Homo sapiens: one gene and its partner. The gene in region 2 interacts genetically with the main gene of each other region. Each region holds a gene or a part of one and is shown on either strand. Other genes may lie near its edges.

Region 1 (7,032 bases), on a different chromosome or scaffold from region 2:
ACTGCAGACGCTGCAAACGGCCCCAGGCCTGCAAACAGCAGGGCGTTCTGCAGAGGCCAGGCTCCTCCAGGAGGCCATGCAGGTCGCTCCAGACTCCACTCCCAAGAAAGCTTCTGTAAACGCATCTCGTCCCATCTGCCAGGGTTGCCAGCGGCAGGTATCTCTGCTGCCTCTCCAGGGCACAGTGGTCCCTCCCTCCTGTGGTCAGCGCTGACCCTTGCTCAGTCCCTCCTCACACAGAGATCTGGGCCCTGAAGCCCCTAGTCCAGCCTGGTCTAACCTGAGGCCTCATCCAGAGCCCAGCAACATCTGGGACAGCAAAGGGCTCGGGAGGGCCCCAGCCCAGGCCACGGCTGAGCACGCACAGCCTGGTCCATGTATCCCCCTGCCTCACCCCCTGCCTCTATCCACACAGCGTGGAGTCCCTCCTATCACACGCCAGCCCCCTGCAGGCCTCCCAGGGGACCCCGTTGATCCCCCAACACCCTCAACCCCAACCCCCGGGGCACCCCCATCTCCCTCCTCCAGGATCCTGTAACAGGCGACTGGGCTTTGTTCCAAGGCTGTGAGCCCTGTCTGGCCAGCCGGGGCTGGGGACCCCTCTTGCGAGGCCTGAGGGCAGCTCAGCCGGGCTTCCCAGACACCTGGGCCACCTGCCTGCCACACCTCCGTCTCCACTCACCTCAATGAAGGTGCTGAGCGTGGCGTTGGTGGGGTTGTGGGTGATGAGGAAGCGCATGTGTTTGTAGCTCACCTCCACCGGGGCCGGGCGGTTCATCCGAGCCATGGCGCCTCCCGACGGGCCCGGCAGGGCAGAAGGGACTGCAGAGAAGGCTGGGGACACGACCTGAGAAGTCCCCACACACCCCCAAAAAATGAGGAGAACGAGATCCCTGTGCTTGTCCAAGAGAAACGAGATTTAAAAACCCACCCCCATACCCCGCACAAATATTGTGCAAATACTTGGGTGTGGGGGAGGAAGCTGCCCACTGTTTGGATAATTAAAAAAGAAAACCCAACTCTTAAAAAAGAAAAGGAACAAAACAGCCCGCCGCCCCCCCCAACCCAACCAAAGTAAAGCGGGCAACTCCAAACTCCCGTCTCTCAGAGCTGGATAGTCATAAAGAGGCAAAAAATAAAAAGAACAACCAAAAAAGCTCAGCAAAGAAAACTTAAAAACTCAAAGTGAACCCGGCCGCCAAGCAGTGTCCAGAGCTGGACCCCACACCGGGGGCGCCCTCTCCACATTGGTGGATGGGCAGACAGCCCCCTTCACTCAGAGGTGGGCCCCAAGCCCCCAAGGGCCAGAGGAAGAATGAACTTGAACTGAACCAACTCCAGCTGCCTTGGGCCAGGGGTCACGGGCAGTGGCCGTGGGGACAGCGGCCTCTGACGTGTGGGGCCTGTGTCACGTTACCCCATCGGGGTACGGTGAGTCCTGGAGTGGGGCAGGGGGCTCAGGCGGTAGAGCTGGCCCCAGGCTGGGCAGCAGAGGCCATCGGCAGGCGAGGGCAATGGTGAGAGCCAGTGGCACGGGGACCCCTCAGCAGGAGGCGCGGCGACCCTGGGCGCAGCAGTGCTTAGGGCTGGGCCCCGTGGCCCACTCCATGAACCCCAGGTGGGTCCACAGCACACAGCATCTGTGGGGAAAGACGAAGGAAATGAATAGAAAGGGATCACAGGGGGCCCCGCCTCCCACAAGGGGTTCATGCCTGTCATGAGCCCACAGTCACAGGCGACACCTCTCCCAGAGCCCTCCTCCTGACCATGCTGAGAGAATGACCCTTTTGGGTCTATTTCCTTATATGGGAGCACAAGGAAGCACGGCTCCTGCCAGGACTGACCCAGGGCCCAGAGGCGACAGGGTAGCCACCACACAGCCAGCAGGGCATGACGGAGGACAGAGGGGACAGGGATTTCAGGGACACACACACCCCCGAGGACATGATGAACCCCAGCACACAGATGACAGATCCCTCTGTGGGGACAGAGGCCGAGTTCCTAAGAAGCCTGAGCCTGGCCCCTGCCCACCTGCTGTGATCTGCGGAAACTCCACCCCAGGACAGCTGCCCTCTCCTCTTCCGATTCTCAGCCACTGTGAACATCTGAGCCCAGGTGTCTCTGGGTGGCCCATCCTCAGGGAATGGGGCCCAGGCACTCGGTCAGTGCTGCCAGCACAGGGAGGTGAGGGGCCTGGCCCCACACGCGGCCGTGGGCCACCCTAATCGCCTCTTGCTTTCTGCAGAAAGTCTCCTGCCTGTCAGCAGCCCCCTGTCCACCAGTGTCCCCCCGCCACTGTGTCTCCACTGCTCACACAGGTCTCAGCCAGGCTCGGGGATAAACAGGCCAGCTCTGCCCCTCCAGGAGCTCAGGGAGGCGGGGACAGAACACGCCAATGGGCCAGCCATCAGGCACACATGCCAAGGTGGTGACAGCACAGGTGGCCAGGAGTGGGTTCACACCATGACAGGGCCCTGAAGAGGGGAGGCGGCAGGGGGGGCCACAGCAACCCAAGGCACCTCCACGCCTGCCTCTCTCCCTTTCTGGGTCTCATGACCCCAAAGCTCCCAGGCAAAGGGGTTCCAGGAGCACGCAGCCCCCTTCCCTCTCTACGGAAGGGCTGGGAGGCCTTGAGCAAGGTGCCGGCCTCTTTGTTACCCCATGAGCACGATGAGGGGTGACACAAGTGACCCAAGCTGTATTTGGGCACTGCTGCTGAGGGGTCCCCGCACTGCTGGCCCTGGCTGTGACCCAGCTGTTAGCAGACTCTCCAGCCCCCTAGACTCAACCCAAGCCCGGCCCTGTCACTACTGCCTGCTACCCAAGGAAAGGCACTTCAGGGCCCCTCGCCCAGCAGAGCCCTCCATTCCCCAACCCACCCCCTCTCACCTGTGCCCCTGCCCCAGCCCCAGCACCCCCTTCCCAGCTGCCCACCAGGCAGGCTGGGCCCTTGGAGCTTCAGCCCAGGTGCAGGTAGGGCTTGAGGCCTGGGCCCCTGGACTCAGAGGGTGGCTACCTGGGACAGTGGGCTCCTCCCTGCCTGCCCTCCACACCCTGGGTGGCAGCCAGTGCTCATGGGCTCAGAGCAGCCGCCACACCTCAGGCTCTGTCCACTGCATGGTTCTGGGAAGGTTAAAATGGGCGGTGGGTGTCAGGCGCAGTGGCTCACTCCTGTAATCCCAGCATTTTGGGAGGCCAAGGCGGGCGGATCACCTGAGGTCAGGAGTTCAAGACCAGCCTGACCAACATGGAGAAACCCCATCTCTACTAAAAATAAAAAAATAAAAAATGAGCCAGGCATGGAAGTGCATGCCTGTAATCCCAGCTACTCGGGAGGCTGAGGCAGGAGAATCGCTTGAACCCTGGAGGCAGAGGTTGCAGTGAGCCGAGATCGCTCCATTGCCCTCTAGCCTGGGCAACAAGAGCAAAACTCCGTCTCAAAAAAAAAAAAAAAAACCGGTGGTGGGGTGGGACCCCCAGAAGGAGGTAAAGGTGGAGACAAGGATACTGTCCCTGGTCCCGCCAGTCCCCACCTTGCCCGACTGGAGGGAGCACAGGCTCTGAGTGTGGGTGAGGGAAGCCACCACGTGCTAACAGCACACAAACACCTGGGTCCCTCTTGGGGCAGCAGGATGTCCCTGTGTGTGTGCACACGGGAGCCGAGCTCATGTTTACAGAAAGAAAGGAAGAAAAGCACCAGAGAAACCACAGTATTGGGCCTCTCCCTGAGGGGCTGACCAACCCCTCACACCTACAGCTGCCAGGGACCCAGGAAGACCCCACAGGCACCAGCACGTGGCCTGGACCTGCTGCCTAGTGGCCCTGCACAGGTCCTCAGGGCTGCAGGCTACTGGGAGGGAGGAGGCTCCGAACCACCCCACACTACCCCCCACTGAAGGCCTAAGGATGCCACACATCTGCCGGAATCAGGGGGTTAGCCTGGGCTACGCTCAGGGGTCACAGCCCAGGCTAGAATGGGGTTAGGGGTCCAGGGAGAGGCTGGACCAGGGTCTTGCCACACATCCCACTTGTCTCTGCAGCCTAGGGCCCCTACCCCTGCCCCAGGTGAGAGCAAAGCAATGATGCCCTGGCACCACTATGTGGCTCTGCCCTGCCTGGTGGCTGTCCCCCAAGGGAGAAAACCCCTCCATAACCACACGCCCCCAGTGAGGTCACCAGGTAGGGCCCTGAGAGCAAGGGTTAAGGATCCCCAGGGATGGGCACTGAGAACTCCCTGAAGCCAAAGCCTCAGGCTTCCCATCTGCGAAATGGGGACAGGTTGCCCCTGCCTCCATGTGTCCTGAGTCGCTACCACCCCCACCAGGCCCGCGGCCCACAGCACGGGGACCCACTGGCAGCCGTGGCCCCTCTTTCCCTCCTGCTACCTCCTTCCCTCCTGCTACCAAGCCCTGCAGAACCCTTCCCAAGATCTGGCTCAGCCTCCTCGGGCCAGCAGGCCCAGAGCCCTCAGCTATTTCTCAAGACCCTTTAAGGGAGAGTCCATCCTTGTCCCTGTTTGCGAGATGAGGAAACAAGCCAGGGAGAGGGGAGAACATTCTCCACCAGGGCCACACCAGGCGTCCAGTTAACTGGGTTCTCTCTGGCTCAAATCTAGGAGGCAGGAACAACACGCAGCGCCCTGCACAGAAGAGGAAATCGAGGTTCAGGGAGGCTACCGCCCTCCTTCCCGATGGCACAGCAGCTTAAGAAGTTTGAATCCAGCCCCCGCTTCAGACAGGGCGCCCCCTGTGATTTTGGGGGAGGAGGCTGGAGGCCCGGGGCTCAGCGGGTCTCAGGAGAAGTAAGCTGCGCCGCGGTCAGGGCTGAGGCGGGCGCTCTGGGGAGTCCCGGGGAACCAGTCGCGGGTGGGGTCGTGGTAAGGGGCGCGGCCCCCTCCCTGGGTGCCAGCGGGGCTCCCGCCCAGCCCTCCGGAGGGCGCCACCTCCTCCCCGGCGGGGCTGGGGTCCCGGAAGGCCTGGGTCCGCCGCGTCCCCACCTGCCAGGCTCACCCGCGCCGCAGGCGTCCCACCGCCTCCATACGCGCCGGCCTGGCGGTGCCCACGGTGCTGGCCCTGGGTCGGGGCGCCGCCCCTCCGCCGCGGAGCCGGCTCCAGGCGCTGCCGCCACCGCCGCCTGCGGCTATTTATAGCGCCCGGGCGTCACGTGGGGGGCGTGACCGGCGGGCGACCCGGCTGCCGGGGGCTCCCACACCTGCCGCCTAAATATAGCCGCGCCCTGCCCGGGAAACAAAGGGGCCGCGCAGGGCGGGCGCGGGGAAGAGGAAGCCCAGCCAGGAAAGGGAAGTGCGGGGCGCGGCGAGGGCCGGGGGCGCTGCCGCCCGGGACCCCTCCTTCCTCCCGCCGGCCGGCCCGGCGCCCTCTCCCGGTGCGCGCCCTCCCTAGAACCTCGGAGCTCCCCCTGGCCCCCTCATGGGGCTGCACGGGCCTGTGGGCTGGGGGTCCGGAGGGCAGGAGCCGCCGGGCCGCGCTCCTGGTGGGGAGGCCTGGACAGAGCGCGCCCAGCTTTGGAAATGGAAATGCGGCCCCGCCGTGCAGGTGCTGTCCTGCACCCTGAGGAGGAGGGCGCCCGAGTCCCTCCAGTTCAGACCCCCTGCCCAGCCCACCAGCCCCACCGCCCGGGCACTCCTCCATGAATTTACTCAGCACCCACCGTGCCAGACACTGCTGTCCCCTCACTTAATCCTCACGACCCCGCTGTGGCTGGCTACGCTGGTCTCTCCTAGCGTACTGGTGAGGAAACTGAGGCACTGCAACGAGGAACACCCTGAGGTAACACCGGCAGGCAGGATTCAGCCAGGCGGCGGGCTCCACAAACTCTGAGGCTCGGCACTGATGCCCCCTCTTCCAGGAAGCCCTCCCAGACCCTCTCAAGCAAACGCCTCCCTGCGACTCCTGGCTCTGCCTCCTGGGAGCATTGTGCCGGGAACTCATGTGCTCCCCAGACTATGAACCCCAGGGATGCAGCTGGCATCACCACCCACTCTGTGCCCGCCCTGGCCACCCAGGGCCCTCAGAGCAGGGTGGAGCGGCAAGGGTGGTACCCCCAGCACAGGGTCCCTGGAGGTGTGGCCCTGCTTGCAGCTCTCAAACAACCTGGTCCCTGCAATCTGAGGTCATCAAGGGGCCCAGCTGAGAGCACGACCCCCCCTCCCCCTGCCAGGCTCTCCCCACCCACACTTCCAGAAAACATCACCATCAGCCTGGCCCAGCTGTGCCGGCAACCCTCGCCTCCTCCCACCTCCAGGTGGGCAAGCAGGCTGGGGAGCAGAGGACAGGAGGGCTGTGCCCAGTCTGAAGGGCCCCATGGGAGCCTCCACCCAAGGGCACACCAAGCCAGGTAGCCCTGCCTGCCAGCTCATGGACCCCCAAGGGTGTGAGCTCCCTGGCAAGGGCACCCACCCACGTGGGTGCACCCAGCTCCACAGGGAGACGCTAGGCTCTGACTCCTGCCCAGTGCTCTCAGCTCACCACTTCCAGCAGCGTCTCCCTGAAGGTTGAAGGCAAGAATGGGTCAGCTTCAGGGACTCTGCCCCACCAATCTCCAACCTCAGCCACTTTCTAAGGATACCAGGCTAGACACTGCATTCCACAAGCAAGACACACACCTGCCACACTGCACTGACAAACCATAACAGCACAGAGAAGCTGAGCAACCCTTCTGAGTCACACAGCCAGAAGGCAGAAAAACCACATTTGGAGCTGGGTCTTGCTGCCCCCGAGACCCTGCTTATCCCCACCCTAGCCCTCTGGGAGAGAGGACCTCTGGGGTAAGCTGCTCCTGCCCCCCAGCCTCAGTTTTCTTATCCATAAAAGGGGTCTCAGAGTGAAAGTTCCCATCAAGCTCTGTGATGCTACAACCAGACAGAGCCCGTCGCCTCTGGCGCTACAAAAGTGGACCCCAGCATCCTCATCACCCCCACCCGGGCTCCACCCCCTTGCCTGGGGCCCTCTGGCCGGGCCTGGGAGGCACCTGCTGCAGCTGGCACAGCCCCAGGCCTTTCGGAGAAGTCTA
Region 2 (7,625 bases):
TCGAGCTTGTCATCTCCAATCATTAAAGCTGTCAGGAATCCATCAGGTTTACAGCTAATTAGGTGAACACTAATGAAGCTGGCAAAACAACTTTTCTTTTTTTATGGCTGAGCGGACCTTTCAGTTTGGAGGGGAAAAAAATTCTCGAGTATTCTCAAGGTTGCTGGGGACTGGATTTCCAGTTACCAATCAGCAGACATCTTTCTTTTCCCCACTCTCTCTCTCTATCAGTACAAAGCAATCAATTTGTCATCACTCCCAGTATGCCACAAAAGCTGGCATGAACCTTATAACTTGCAGCTGGGAAAACTAAAAAAGAGGAGAAAAAAATGGGAAGTTTCTGGTCCATCCAAACAAACAAACCACCCCCAAAAAAAAAACCTCTGTGCATACTTATCACCAGCCTAAATGTGGAGTTTTTTTTTTTTCTCTCCACTCTTCTTAAATAAGTAGCTCTTCAGTCCGCCTCCACCCCCTCCTCCACATGTCCATTAGGCAGAGGCATTCTGATAAAGTAAATCCAAAACCCGAGTATGGGAAAGAAATAAAGCACTCATGCTGCCAGCTTCTGATTGACCATTAAGCTATTGATGAATGTGCCTGTCAGGAGAGAGACAATTAAATCAAATATGAAACAAAGTCGTTTTGACGGGTCATTTTGATAGAGCAAAACCATTCTTCCATCTCCTATTAGTCCTGCAGTCAAGTTTTTTATATAATGAATTTTTCTTAACTGACCTGAGATTTCCTGGCTGGCTTTCTTTAAAAAAAAAAAAAAAGTGTGAAAAGGTTAGTGAACAGGTTGCTCTAAAAATAAATAAATAAATAAATAAATAAAGCCAACAGCAGGTTCCCTCCTCCTCTGATATTTTTCTGGAGGAAGCTATCAAATACGAGTCTCAGATTGGCAGGGTGCAACCGAAGAGATGAACTAGAGAGAGAGTTCTGAACCAAATGTAAAGATGTAATCACATATGGTTCATTGGATGGAGGCACACACATACCTTAAAATGTGTATCCAAAAAGGAAAGAAAAAAAAAATTTCAAAGACTGGAAGAAGCCCAAGACATTCCTACTACTCAACTTTGTGAAGGATTCCTCCAAAGTTTCAGAGTTTATTTTGGGTAGATAAGCTCATTGCTTGAGCCTGGAATTTAAAGTAGAAGGTGGGACGGGCAAGAAGCAAGCTCCAGGAGGTTAACTAGGGAGGCGGCAAGCTCCCTACAATCACTCCTGGAATTTTCAAACTTTCTAAATTTGGGCAACACCGAGGACAGAGAGCAAAACCTGCATCCTAAGCCCCAAACCAACCCTGTTTTCTTCTGAGATTTTCTGAAGACACTGGCAGGCAAGTACATTTCTGGGAGAAGAGAGAATTATCATTCCTTCTCTGTGACCCCGTGTAAGGGGTCTGGAGTGCAGAGTGCAGCCAACGTGTGAGGTCCCCTGGCAGTGCCGGCTGGCATGATGGAAATTATGGGCACTCAGGGCACCATGGCTACAACGCCTTCCTCCAAGATGGGCACCAGCCAATGCCCTGACCCTACTCTCTGCCCTTCCCTCTTAACATCAAAAGAGAAGTAAAAGAAAGGAAGAGAAAAGAAAAGAAAGGAAGCCCCACTTAACCCTCCCCTTCAGGGAGCATCTGAACCTCTGCACATCTGAGTGTTACTCATATCAAAATACATCACGTCCATATGTGGTCCTCTCGGCAATCCGCCCCAAATCCCAAAGTTGCACTGACAGGGCCCTCCTGACGTCACAGAGCTTGGCCTCACTATTGCAAGTGATTTATTGATGTTTATTGGGAATGAATAGATCAAAGGCAGCAGCATGACGGGCGATCAATCAGTCATCAAATCAAGGATGGCAACGGGCCAGAAACCCTTCTTCCAGGCAACATGCCCCCAACCGACATTATTGCAAAATAATGTTATGTGTGTGGTTTTTGTTTTGTTTTCAATGATGCGTTTTCCAGAAAAGAAAAGAAAAAAATCGGCTCAGTCTTAACAGGAGTTGACACTCCCGGTTAAAGAAGAAGAAAAAAAAAAAAAAAGGAGGAACAAAAAAGTACTCAGACACGTCCCAGAACTAAGTGCTATGCGGAGATGAGGGTGGGAGCAGCAGTACAAGGAGGGGGTGGGGGCGAGGAAACACAAACAGGGGAGAAGGAAACGCCAGCATCTAACATGGACTTGACAGTCATCTGACAATACCCAGACCCTGTGCGCTCCGGGTTCCACCGCTGTGCCCAGTTTGGGCCCAAGAAATGAGGAATCAATCGTGTTAGTACTAAGGTGGCCGAGGGGACCGGCTCGCTCACTCGTTCGCGCTCCCTGGCTCGGCGGACACCAGGCAGTCCCCCGGCGGTCGGCCGCTCGGAGGACGCGGAAGATGTCCCGGGGAACTCAGGTGACCCCGCCCGCCACCCACAGAAAGAGCCAGGCCGGGGTTGCTTCCCATTCCCTCTGCAGCCGGAGAGCTGAGGAGGTAGGGACCTGGCGCGGCTCAGCGCGCTCCGCGAGCGGCTCCCCAAATGGGTGCGAGAGGGAAGAGGGCAGAGCGCGGCGGGGCGTCCGGGGGGCGCCCGGTACCCGAGGCGGGCGCACGCACCCAAACAGGAGAGCGGCGCCCGGAGTTACTCAGTGCGGGCAGAAGAGCGGGGCGAGGAGCGGGGTCGCGCCCGCTGGAGGCGCGGGGCGAGCGGAGGAAGAGGAGGAGGAGAGCAGAAGGAAGGGGAAGCGGCTCGTACCTGCTGCGCGCCGGGGCGCCTGCTGCTTCCTCCTCGGCATGATGCTTCTCCGGCGACTGCCACTGCCGCCGCCGCCGCCGCTGCCGGGCTGAGGACAGGGAGGGAGGGGGCGGCGGGCCCGCGGGGGGGCGAGGCGGGCCTGCTCTCAGCCTCCCCCCCGGAGAGCGGCCGCCCGCAGGATGCTGCTGCGCCCAGGCTCTCCGCGTCCCCCCCGCGCCGCGCTCCGCCGCGAACCCCGAACGTGCGGAGGGAAGAAGGAGGGCGGGCGAGGGAGGCTCGGGGAGGGAGGAGCACGGGGGGGAGGAGGAGGCAGAGGAGGAGGAGGTGGAGGAGGAGGAGGAGGACCGCGCTGCCGGCGGAATGGGAAGTTTGACAAATCGCTCCAGAGGCCAGAGGAGGAGGGGGCGGGGAGGAGCGGCGGCCCTGCCCCCCCCCGCCCCGTCCCCAGACGAGGTGCGCGGGGTTCGGGGCTGGGGGGCGGGGAGAGGGCGGGCAGAGCGGTGGGAGGAGGAGCGCGGGAGCGGCCCGGACCGGTACTGCCCCGGCCCCCGCCCCTAGGCCGGGGGTCACGGCATCCGGGGGGACGCGCAGCCGCCGCCGCGGCCCGGGGCTCGGCGGTCCAGTCTTCTGCCCGTGGCGCGGCTGGAGCGGCGGCGTCGGCAACAGGCAAGCTTAAAGGAAAAGGAGATGATCGTGTCAATCGCCCGCCCGCGGGGGCGCCGCGCCCCCGCCCCCGGCCCCAGGCCCGCGTGGGACCCCCGCCCCGCCAGCGAAAGGGGTGCCGCCCCTCCGCCTCCGCCCCGTGCGCACACGCGGGGGCGCGGCGCCAGCCCCGCCGAGCCCGTCCCGGGGCGCTCGTTACCCCCCACCCCTATTCCCACCCAGCGTTCGTCCCCAGCCACCCCCCAGCTGCCCCACCCGGCTCGCACTCCTCTCCACCCGCCGACTCCGGAGCCCCCAGCGTGGTCCCCGGGCCGGGGCTGGCGTCCCCCGGGGAAGCCAGAGCCCACGGGCAGGCCCCCTCCAGGGAGGAGGCGGGCGCGGGCCGGGGCGGGTGGGGGCAGCCCTCAGACCCCGCGCCACCCAGCTCCTCCCCCAGGACCCGCCGTAGCCACTTCCCCCAATTTTTTTTCCCCGGACAAACTTTCCTGGGCCCGTCCCGGGGGTCGGTGTGGGAGGGGGTTCCTTCAAGTTTCCTCTCCTGACTTTGGGATGATCAGGGTCCCTCCACCCCGCCCCTCGCCCCCGGGAGCCGGGCCGCGCCCCCCATCCACGGCGCGGGCCGATCCTAGGGCGGGACGGGGGCGGGAGAAGGAAACCGGGCTCCCCTGCCCATCCCCCGCCAGGGGCTCCCCCCGAGAGCCTAGGGGGCCGCCGCGCCGTGTCCCGCGCCCGGCCTGCCGGGGCTGCTGGACTAGAGGGATTGATTATTGATTGGTGATCGGGGTCGCTGAGGCTCCGGGCCGGCCCGGCCGACTGGCCGCGGCAAGAAGGAGCTGGCTGGGCGGCGTGGGCGGCGGGGCGACGCGGGCTCACTTACGGGCGGCGGTGAGGGCGCGGGTGGGCCGGAGCTCATGCGGGCGACCCCCGGGCGGCGGCGGCTGAGCGGGAGCCGGAGCCCGAGCGGCGCGGGCGGCGGCGCATCGATGCGCTGCGGGCTCGATTGCGTCTCCCTGGGCCAGCTCTCAGGCCGGGAATGGGGCGGCCGCGCCGGGGCCGGCTCCGGGCGCTGCCGGGCGGCGGCTGCTGGAGCGCGGGGGCGGCCTCCGGGCCCACTATCCCCGAGGCGGCCCTGCGCCCGGGCGCGCCGGCTGGGGCTCTGGCGCTCTCGCAGGCCCCGAGGCCGACAGTCCCGGCGAGGGCGGGCGCCCCGCGCTCCAGCACCGGCTGCCTGAGCGCTCCTGGAGCAGCAAACCCCAGACTTCTTCCTCCTTCTCTCCTTCCTTCCTTCCCCCTCCCCTTATCTTTTTCTTTTTTTAGTCTCTTTCTCCCTCTTTTTCTGCCCTGTGTCCTTTTTATTTTTTCTCTACGACTGTTTTTGCAAGTTTGTTTCAAAAGTTCACAGCATGCTTTCTTTTCTTTTAGACCGGGAGACAGTGATCTCACCCACACGGTAAGATCAAAAGTCTCCGCTCGCCCAGCCTGCGGGCTTGGGCTGGGTCCAGACGTCTCCCAGGATGCAGATGCGCCGCCGCTGGCCTCCCCGGCTATAAAGCCGCCTCCAGCGCCTTTCCGCGCGCAGGAGCGCTCGGAGTTGTGGGGTACGGACCCCAGGCGGGGCAGGGAGTCCGAGGCGGGCTGCGGCGGGGCTCTCGGGCTGGCGGACTCGGGGGCTGAGGCGCCGTGCGCGTTGGGTGCCCGCGGCCGCAGAGGCCAGAACCGCTACTCCTCCAGGCCGGGGAGACGCGGCCGTGGAGCGTGAAACGCTTCTTGCAAGCGAGGAAACGGTGAGTTGGCCGACACCGCCGGCGGCCTCACCATTCTGGTGGCCGCGCTGAGCTCCTGTCGCCTGGAGGCGGGTTGCGCCGCACGGGGTCAGCTCCCGCCGGCTCCCAGCTCACCTTCGAAGCTCCCACTTAGGCGCGCCCGGTGCGGCGTGTGCACAGCGCGGGGCGCCGCACACGGAAGCGTGTAGTTCTCCCTGGTCGCGCTTTTCTCCTCCTTTCCATCCCCTCGCTGTTCTTGCAAACCTCTGTTCCTTCGGCCCCCTCCCACTGCGGGCCGCGGCCTGAACTCGGGTCTCCGCGTAGCCGGCCGCCGCCGCTGGGTCGCTGCCTGGCCCTCCCCCGCTCAGGCGCCGAGCGCTGTGCGATCCGCCCTAACATCTGTCCGTCCAACCATTGGCGCATCCATCAGTGTCAATGGGCTGCACATTGCAGCGACAGCCCGCCACGCACAACACGGGCTATGCGGAGTGCACGCAGCAACCATACTGCCATGTCGGGACACGCAAAAAGGCCCCCGGCCTGGCTTGGCACAGCCTGAAGGCCTAATCTGTGTTCTTTCAGCCACATGTACCCACCCCCACTTAATATCTGGACCCCCAAACATGAATAGTTTTGCAGACCATTGTAGGGATGGAATTGAAGGAAGAGGGGCAGTGTCGCCCGAGTCATTATTTTCCACCAGGTTTTCTCTGCCCTTGTGTGGGCTGGGTGTGGCTAGGAGAGAAGGAAGGGAGACTTCCCAAATCCGCACCAAGCACACTGCAGAACCGGAAGCTACCTGGATGCAAGGGCTTAAACCCCCTTCACCTGGGCCTAGGATGTGTTGTCGAGGTCGCTGGCCAGGTTTTAGCCAGGAGGTCTCGCGCTAAAACTTTTTGGCCCCGCCTGGCTGCTGTGTGTGACATGGCCTGATGGAGAGGAGCTGGAGAGCGGAGGAAAACGTGGATCCCAGTGAGAACTAAGGGCCAGATTTAGGGAGAAATAGTGTCTGGATGGCAGTAAGTCTGTAATTCACATTTTGTTTACAAAGGGAGAAAGGGCAGGGCTGTAGGTTTGAGAAGCCAGAGGTTTGCGCGGAGTTCCGTGTGCCCATTCCCCGAGAGTGCCGCTCTTGGCTGTAGTTGTTTGTTCTACCTGATTTTGCCTCTTGCCTTCAACTCCCCCATAACCCCTCCCCAAATGTCCAGAGGGCAAACATATGCGCATACCTCCCTGATCAATCCAGCCAGACCAAAGGGCCTTCCCTGTCCTCCCCCTAAGAACTTAATGGGAAGAGTGTACGGGGGACCTACTCTTGGGACATCTGCAGGGCGGCTGTACCAGGCGTTTTACCTGACTTTATTCTTACCGCAAAGATTTCCGTCTCGGTACCTGGTGCCCCCTCAGAGTCCACTACACAAACGGGTAAAATCCCGCGCGGCTATTCATTTCGCCATTCGCGAGTAAGAAGGGGAAAAGGAGCCGCTTCTAGGAGAGCACTGAGGTATGCTCGGTTCGGTTCCCGAGGAGGCCAGAAGCGGCCGCGGCGGCGCGGGCTGGAGCTCCCTCCTGCAGGGAGACACCGCGCTCTAGGGTGCGGGCTTCGCCGCCCACATCCAGTGGTCGAACTGTTTTCACGCTAGACTAGAGGGCGGAAAAGTCTGCGCCCGCGGAGAAACTAGAATTCTGTAGAATGTACACTGTGTAGAAATCTTTTCACCCCACTCTTCAGAGTTGCAGATTATCTTTGAAAAACAACAGGCTCTGGCCCTGCCAGCCCTAGTAACTTCTACCCGCCTGAGTCACTCTGAAAAGTAAGCCCCTAGGCCAGTGAGATGTCCCCACCTTTGGGAGGTGCCGCCTTTCCGGGAACATTAAAAAAAAAACCCTAAAAATAGAAGGAGGAAAAATGAGCAAAGGCGGTGGGACGACTCACCGAAACACCGAGGTGCAAATGTCCATTGGAGAAACTGGCAGTCGCATGGCAGCCAGCTGGCTCACCCAATAGCTGGGTGGTAACCTTGTGATCCCCAAACATCCCCCAGGGCCATGAAGGCAGTGCTGACCCCCACGATTGCACCTCAGGCCCGGTGGAATCCCGCTCCTCCTCCATAGTGGTGCTATGTAATCAGTAGAAAATCAGTAGAAAAGCTCCCAAATGAAGCTGCTTCAGGTCAGGGGTTAGAAATCTGCCTCAGACTTTTTGAACTCAAGGAAATCGGGACATCTGTCCCCAGAGCTACCTGTGCCCCACCCCAGGATCATTCATGACCTTAGCTACCGGGAGCTCTGCCCGGATAAGTTTTTAAAAGAGAGAGAGAAAGAAAAAAGTCACATGCAGGCAAGGCTAGGAACAGGTGTGTGCTGTGGGGACGGGCACTTGGCTCGCAACACACCACACAAAGTCACGAAGTCTGTGCCAGAAAGGAGTAGCCAAACCACCGCCG

What was found. A genetic interaction does not mean that the proteins touch.
Region 1: changes in TSHZ3 (region 2) and PTP4A3 together harm fitness less than expected from each alone (positive genetic interaction), as found in Homo sapiens cells (one study listed by BioGRID).

Annotation. Positions count from the first base shown.
Region 1 is NC_000008.11:141,415,996-141,423,027, reverse strand, and holds part of PTP4A3 (protein tyrosine phosphatase type IVA 3), read right to left. Parts: intron 6,903-7,032; exon of another isoform or gene 5,671-6,902; intron 5,120-5,670; exon of another isoform or gene 4,997-5,119; intron 4,640-4,996; exon of another isoform or gene 1,641-4,639; 5' UTR 788-1,640; coding exon 683-787; intron 1-682. UniProt on the Homo sapiens protein: Protein tyrosine phosphatase which stimulates progression from G1 into S phase during mitosis. Enhances cell proliferation, cell motility and invasive activity, and promotes cancer metastasis.
Region 2 is NC_000019.10:31,346,428-31,354,052, forward strand, and holds the start of TSHZ3 (teashirt homolog 3), read right to left. Parts: upstream 3,010-7,625; 5' UTR 2,793-3,009; coding exon 2,753-2,792; intron 2,491-2,752; exon of another isoform or gene 1-2,490. UniProt on the Homo sapiens protein: Transcriptional regulator involved in developmental processes. Functions in association with APBB1, SET and HDAC factors as a transcriptional repressor, that inhibits the expression of CASP4.